Homo sapiens: one gene and its partner. The protein of the gene in region 1 binds, or shares a complex with, the protein of each later gene. Each region holds a gene or a part of one and is shown on either strand. Other genes may lie near its edges. The genes, in order: SGF29 and MBIP.

Region 1 (3,824 bases):
AGATACAGCCTCATTTCACTGCCTTTCGAATCCTCAGAGTAGAGGGATTTTAGTTCTTCAGGTCACCCAGATTAACGGAAAGCTGTCCCTCCTGCTGCATTTTGGAATATGCAGATACATGCAAATCTATTTTGAATACAATGACCACCTCGGTCACAGTCTTGGCCATACTCACCCTAGCCCCATCTCATCCCCTTTCTCTCCTGAGCCCAGCTACTCACTCTTGTTCTCTGTCTGCATCCGCTCATGGGTCTTCTGGATGTTCACTAAGTTGTGTTCGCTCCGCGAACGCTCTTCCTGTAAGGAAAAGAGCAGCAGGACATGACGGTGGCCCTTTGTGCTGCTGTGGTACCCTGCCAGCCAGGCCAGAGTCCCCATCCCCAAAATACGGCCCTCATTTTCTTTTTTTTTTTTTTTTTTTGAGATGGAGTCTCACTCTGTCGCCCAGGCTGGAGTGTAGTGGCACGATCTCGGCTCACTGCAAGCTCCGCCTCCCGGGTTCACGCCTTTCTCCTGCCTCAGCCTCCCGAGTAGCTGGGACTACAGGCGCCCGCCACCACGCCTGGTTAATTTTTTGTAGTTTTAGAAGAGACGGAGTTTCACCGTCTTAGCCAGGATGGTCTCGATCTCCTGACCTCGTGATCCGCCTGCCTCGGCCTCCCAAAGTGCTGGGATTACAGGCGTAAGCCAATGCGCCCGGCCTAATTTTTTGTATTTTTAGTAGAGACAGGGTTTCGCCATCTTGGCCAGGCTGGTCTTGAACTCCTGACCTCGTGATCCACCTGCCTCGGTTTCCCAAAGTGCTGGAATTACAGGCAAGGGCGCCCGGCTATGGCCCTCATTTTCTAAATCCAAATTCAGGAGTTCAAGATGATTTTCTCCTTTGACTAATGCAAAAGCATTATAAAAGGCCTTAAAGGGCCTGGTGCAGTGGCTTAAGCCTGTAATCCCAGCACTTTGGAAGGCCAAAGTGGGCAGATCACTTGAGATCAGGAGTTCAAGACCAGCCTGGCCAACATGATGAAACCCCACCTCTACTAAAAATACAAAAATTAGCCGGGCATTGTAGCATGTGCGTATAGTCCTAGCTACTCGGGAGGCTGAGGTTGCAGTGAGCTGAGATCATGTCACTGCACTCCAGCCTGGGTGACAGAGTGAGACTGTTAAAAAAAAAAAAAAAAGAAGGCATTAAAGTTAAATCATAAGTGATATCTTTAATGATAGTCCTTTATCAAAGAGACAAATCAATCTATACAGTCAACGCAATCCCCATCAAAATTCTAATTGACTTCTTTGCAGAAATTGACAAGTTCATCCTAAAATTCATATGGAAATTCACGGGACCCAGATTATCCCCAATCTTGGAAAAAGAAAAAAAAAGTTGGAGAACTCATACTTCCCAATTTCAAAATTTATTACGAAGCTACGGTAATCACGATGGTGTGGTACTGGCATATAGATCAACAGAACAGAATTCAGAGTCCAGAAATAGACACATACAGGTATGATCAATTGATGTGGAGAAGAAGGGGTGGGGAAGAATGCTGGTGCAATTCCTCCCATATCAGTCATCCTGGGAGCAGAGCTGCAACTGCAGATGCTGGAAACTGAGACAGATCCTAAGAAAGAAATTATGACTATGCTTTTTAGCCTTTATGTGAGAATTTTTAAGTGCCTGATGGGTGGGTTGCGCCTTTACCTCAACCTGCAAAATGAGGTTAACAGTGAACACAGCTAGCTAGCTGCCTAGTGCTCAAGACAGCCAATAGTCCATACCTGTGTAACCCCACCCTATATAAATGGGAATGGATTGGGGTTGGGGGGGGATACTTGCTAGACTAGTACTGCTGCCGCTGCAATCTGGACCAGGTACAGTGGCCAAAGCTAACATCCCTTACAAAGGTGGAAAAGTTTGGGTGAAAACCAATCACAAATGGAGAGGAGAAACAGTAGCCGAGTTAACAGAACAAATTAAATGGGTTATGCAATGAGGGAAATCCAATATTGTACTCATACCTCAAGAGAGGCTGAGAGAGAGAGAATGCCATCTCTTAGGTCAGTTACACTGGGTGCCTGAAAGGGCGAAGCCCTGTGTCTGTCAGGACCACGCCTGCTTTTGGAAGCTGACGGGTGAGATGGGAGTCTGGGAACTCGGCAGCAGCTGTCTGAGGGACACCCTGGTTGTATGGGATGATGATAAACTGTTCTAACTGTGGATGACTGAATGGAATGCGTAATCTGCCTGTATCTTTTTTTTCCTTTATTTATTTTTTTGAGACGGAGTTTCGCTCTTGTCGCCCAGGCTGGAGTGCAGTGGTGCGATCTTGGCTCACTGCAACCTCCACTTCCCAGGTTCAAGCGATTCTCCTGCCTCAGCCTCCCTAGTAGCTGGGATTACAAGCATGTACCACCACGCCCGGCTAATTTTTAGTAGAGATGGAGTTTCGCCATTTGGCCAGACTGGTCTCAAACTCCTGACCTCAGGTGATCCACCCGCCTCAGCCTCCCAACATGCTGGGATTACAGGCATGAGTTACCACGCCCAGCCCTTTTTTCCTTTATTTTACAATGTATTTTATTGATAAACTCTTCTTAGAGCAGTTTTGGTTTACAGAAAAGCTGAGCTGATGGCACAGAGTTCCTGTATGTATACCTGCTCTGCCCTGCGCAGTCTCCCCTATTGTTAACATCTTGCATTAGAGTGGTGCGTTTGTAACAACTGATGAGCCAATACTGTTAGATAATTAACTACATCCATCCCCATGATGGTTTACTCTGTGTGTTCTGCCGTTCTATGGGTTTGGACAACGCATCATGTTGCGTGCCCCCCATCATGGTACCCTGCAGAAGAGTTCCACCCCCTAAAATCCTCTGTGCTCCACCTATCCATCCCTTTCATCCTATCTCTCCCAAGGCCCTGGCTACCGCTCATCCTTTCACTCTCTAGTTTTGCTTTTCGTTTACAGTTGGAATACACAGCACGTAACCTTTCAGACTGGCATCTTTCACTTAGCAATGAGTGCCGGCATCTTCTGACTCTTACTCTCCAGGTTACGTCTAAAAGGAATACCATTTGGGAAGGAATTTCTGGGATCTACTCCTTCCTGGCTGTGCGGTGCACAACTGCCAGCAAACTGATCCTTGTGTAGCTATAAACCCTGAGTATCGTGGGCAAAATGTGGCAGAGCATGCCCGATAGCCTGCAGTGAGCTACAGGCACCAATACGCATCTCCCTTGTATCTGTGAAAGAAAAGATATCAAATAGGGGAAAAATGGCTTTTTTTTTTTTTGAGATGGAGTCTTGCTTTGTCACCCAGGCTGGAGTGCAGTGGCGCCATCTCGGCTCACTGCAACCTCTGCCTCCCGAGTTCAAGTGATTCTCCTGCCTCAGCCTCCCCAGTAGCTGGGATTATAGGCATCCGCCACCAAGCCTAGCTAATTTTTGTATTTTTAGTAGAGACAGCCAACATGGCAAAACCCCGTCTCTACTAAAAATACAAAAACAATTAGCCGGACATGGTGGTGTGTGCCTGTAATCCCAGCTACTAGGGAGACTGAGGCAGAAGAATCGCTTGAACCCAGGAGGCAGAGGTTGCAGTGAGCTGAGATCGCGCCACCGCACTCCAGCCTAGGTGACACAGTGAGACTCCGTCTCCAAAAAAAAAAGAGTGTTTTTGTTTGCCTGGATTAATAGGGTGGAAGGAAAAGATATGGGGCATTTTTGTTGGGTGTTAAAAATGTTCTGAAATTGATCGTGCTAATGGTTGCACAATTTTGTGAGCTGCGAAAAACCACTGGATTATACACTTTAAATGGGTGCGTT
Region 2 (3,824 bases), on another chromosome or scaffold:
AAACTGCTCCCTCTGGAGGAATATTAACTTTACTAAGTTCACTTACGTATTAACATCATGATTTCACAGTACATGTATAGGTTTGAAATTCATAGAGCTCAGTTCCTTTTACTAGTGAGATAGATCAACCTTCTCACTCGTACCTCACCTTCATTTCCTAAAGGAACTTTAAAATAATCTTCACCTGTGATAAACACTTTTTAATGTTAGCATTTACTTTGTGTAACCAAAATGAAAACCAGTTTGCAATATAGTCTATTATTAAGCAGAAGGAAACTCTACTGTCTTAATTACTAACTAAATCCATGAAATAAATTGAATTGTGTTCTAAAAGCTATTCATTTAAAAAATAAATAAAAGATTAGAGCAACTATAAAAATTGTGCTTAAAACCCTATGAAAATTAATTTCCAGGTAGTTACCTTGATTACAATCAATAACATTGCAAAATTCCCTGACGTTGTTTTCATTGATTTCAGCTTGCTTTCTTTCAATAAATGCAGATATTCGTCTGTCAATCTACAAACAACAAGTTTTAACAGTGTAAACATAAGATTTTTTAAAATAATACCCTCTCGCCCCCGCCAAAAAACCTTCTTACTTCTGCTTTTCCAGCCTTTATCTGAACTACTTCTGGATCAAAATGGATCTGTGTCTTTTTCACATCTCTTAAATCACTTTCTTTGTGCTTTTCTTCCTCTTGTAGGTCGCCAATGGAAAATTTGTCATTTACTTCATTTTTGTTCCCCATTTCTGTTCTTCCTATCTCTTCAACAGCAGTTGTATTCTCCTCTTTAATCGGAGACTGAAGTTTTGCTAAAAAAGGCTGAGAACAACACAATTCCATCTGCTGAGGTTCAATCTGACCAAAATTAATTACACACTTAATATATTTACATAAATTTCTGCTAAGTAAATGAAATACTTAATATCAGTTAATAAATATAAAAAGTTGGTATACCAGGACACATAGATCTGACCACATATAAGTACTCACTATTCTCTGCTATTGTAACCATTATCATTTGCTATAAATTTGTTTTTTAAAAAAGGAGAGAGGAAAAAAGAAAAGAAAAAAGAAAAGAAAACCTAAGGAAATTTAAAATTTTCTTTGAGAGAATCATTCTGTCACTCATCTTTTATTTTGTGCCAAATCAAAGCCTTCAGCCTCTGGCACCAATGCCACTTAATTAACATGTCATTCAAATGCCTCCTCAGAACACTAAGGCTTAGTATTTTTCCTCCTTAACACGAGAGCTAGTGCTCTCACTCAGCAAAGCCCTGCATTATCACTGTATCACTGGAGATTCTCCACTTGAAACTGCAGTTGGCCAATGTGAATGAGGAAGCATAGACATGAAATATATAGGTGTTAGGCTGAGTGAACACTCAGACTTTTCCTGACATGGCAAGATATCTTTTGGTCATAAAATTAAATTTTAAAAAAGAAAACGAACAAGAAAAAAAAAAGATCTATAGCTGAAAACAGGCAGAGGCCTATCACTATACTACAGGGGGAAAACCCCTGTTGTAGAATTTAAACTATATTACTCATTTACTGTTCCCCTCCCCCACTCCCCACAATGAGGTCTCATTTGAGTTCTAGAGCTCACTGCTCTGCCCTTTAAAAACAGGGTTAACTATTACTTTTAACATGAAACAGTTAAAATTTCCCACAAAGTCAATGAATGGAGGGCTGAAAATTAATGCCTATTCCATTAGTCAAAACACACTAACACTAATAACGTTCCAATTATTTTTTTCATACCTACAATTTTGCTTCCATTGTTCGCTATACTACTCTTTTGAAATCTTATAACACCTTAATCACAGTAAACTGACCAATCCAGTTTTTCCACTTATCTTTTTGACACTTCACATTTTACACTTTGATTAGAGATAAACTGCAAACTTACATCAATTATAATTGCAAAGATGTTCAATTAGAAACCAGCAAGGTCATAATACTGTTCAGTTATTAACATGAAATATTTAAAAATATAACAACACTATTATAAATACCAATTCAATATTAACTTCTAATATAAAGAATGAATTATTTCAAACTGTTAAGGAAAAGAAATGATAAAATAGTGACTGGCTACTTACTAAGATGAGACATTAATGTCATAGAAATTACTTTCTTTTTAAAAACTATGCTGAAACTGTTTAATTGCAATAGACACTCCAGGATGTGTCATGCTGGGATAATGCCCCTTCTTGAACCACTGAAAGCACTCCATGAGCCTCCAAACTCACCCAAGGCATGGAATCATTATCATAGCATGACACACACCTGCCGTGTCTTATTGCTTAATTATAACCCACCATAGATGGAACTGTATTGAATTTTCAGTGCAGGTCTAGAATTGAATAGAATTGCATTCATTCACTCATACCCACATTGGTCTTTTGGGCTATATTCCCTTAACTGTCCTGATCACTACTGAAATTAACAGATTTAGATTAAATCCGGATGTAAATAACGTTTTATTAGCAACACTATTAATATAGTGTTTAGAACTGTCAAATACTCCAACTAACTTAACCACAATCAATTTCTATTTTCAATATCGGGTTATCATTTCTAACAAGAAATTTACCTGTAAATATAAAATGTGTTGTTCAAGTGCACTAAAGAGCAATGCAGGCTGGAATGCCGAGAGGCTCTGGAGCTTGTTCCAATCGATTGTAATTTTCACCACATCATCTCTGAGGTCAAGCTTCAAAGGGGCAAACCAGCAACATCACAAAAATTACACGATTAAGCTCTACATATGGAATTGTCACAAAAATAAGATTTCTAGAGTAACGGGTCTATTTTGCTCTAAGTTATCAAGTTTTTAATAATACACTGAAATGCTCTACCCAGTTACCATTTCAAAAGGCCAAGAAAGCTACAGATTTTCATAAAAAAACAAAAACAAAATGACATGTCGTTCAAATTCTATTCTTAGGTCTGTGTAATGGGACCATTTTAGAGGTAAAACCATTCATGAAAGATGAAAAGATGAAGGCTCTTTTGATACTTCAATATATACAAACCTTTGGATGGAGTCCAATATAGGCTTGCCCTATTCAGAATCCTACTACTTCTAGCTCAGAGCCTTAAACAGAGGAAGTACAAGTGTTTTGTGAAAGTTTTAACATGCATCTTTCTCTTTAAGTATGTACACAAATACATATCAGAAATATATCATTATTCTGATGTCCTCCAAATCACATTTTTAGTTTTTTAACTTTTAACCGATTTTTAAACTAATTTAAAAGTCAAGATTATTCATACATATAAAGTGTAGGGATAAATGGCAACATGTTTATTTCAAATAAAAAACTATTATTTAGCAATGGAAGTCTGAAGCTGAAAAACAAAGACTTCTCCACCACAGTGAAATAAGTTGTCAGACTGGATGAAATGTCCAGATCTTTTGTAAATGCTAAGATGTGACAGCTCATTATATGGAAATTTCTATCAGTTGGTGATCTAATAGAATAAAATCATATCCAGAAAACTACCAAGAACCTGAATATAAGATTATTATCAAAATGAGTGAAAATTTTACAATGAGAGCGCCCATCTGCAGTCTTTTGAATGAATAAAAGTGAACCATCAAAAACTTTTCTAGGGACATGTGTTTACAGCATAGTATAAGACTATACTTCATAGTAGAATCAAGTTAACATAATTTATTCAAAATGAGTCATCTTTTCTACAAAATAAAGGTGTTACGTGAGTTCAAATACAGATTTTATGAGTCACAATTATAATAAAAAAGATGAATCACTGTACAAAGATCAAAAAGATATAAGGTTACCAATAAAAAG

What was found.
Region 2: SGF29 (region 1) and MBIP share a complex: the UniProt entries of both Homo sapiens proteins name them as parts of the ADA2A-containing complex.

The regions. Positions count from the first base shown.
Region 1 is NC_000016.10:28,581,386-28,585,209, reverse strand, and holds part of SGF29 (SAGA-associated factor 29), read right to left. Parts: intron 298-3,824; coding exon 222-297; intron 1-221. UniProt on the Homo sapiens protein: Chromatin reader component of some histone acetyltransferase (HAT) SAGA-type complexes like the TFTC-HAT, ATAC or STAGA complexes.
Region 2 is NC_000014.9:36,314,091-36,317,914, forward strand, and holds part of MBIP (MAP3K12-binding inhibitory protein 1), read right to left. Parts: intron 2,723-3,824; coding exon 2,603-2,722; intron 826-2,602; coding exon 601-825; intron 519-600; coding exon 422-518; intron 1-421. UniProt on the Homo sapiens protein: Inhibits the MAP3K12 activity to induce the activation of the JNK/SAPK pathway. Component of the ATAC complex, a complex with histone acetyltransferase activity on histones H3 and H4.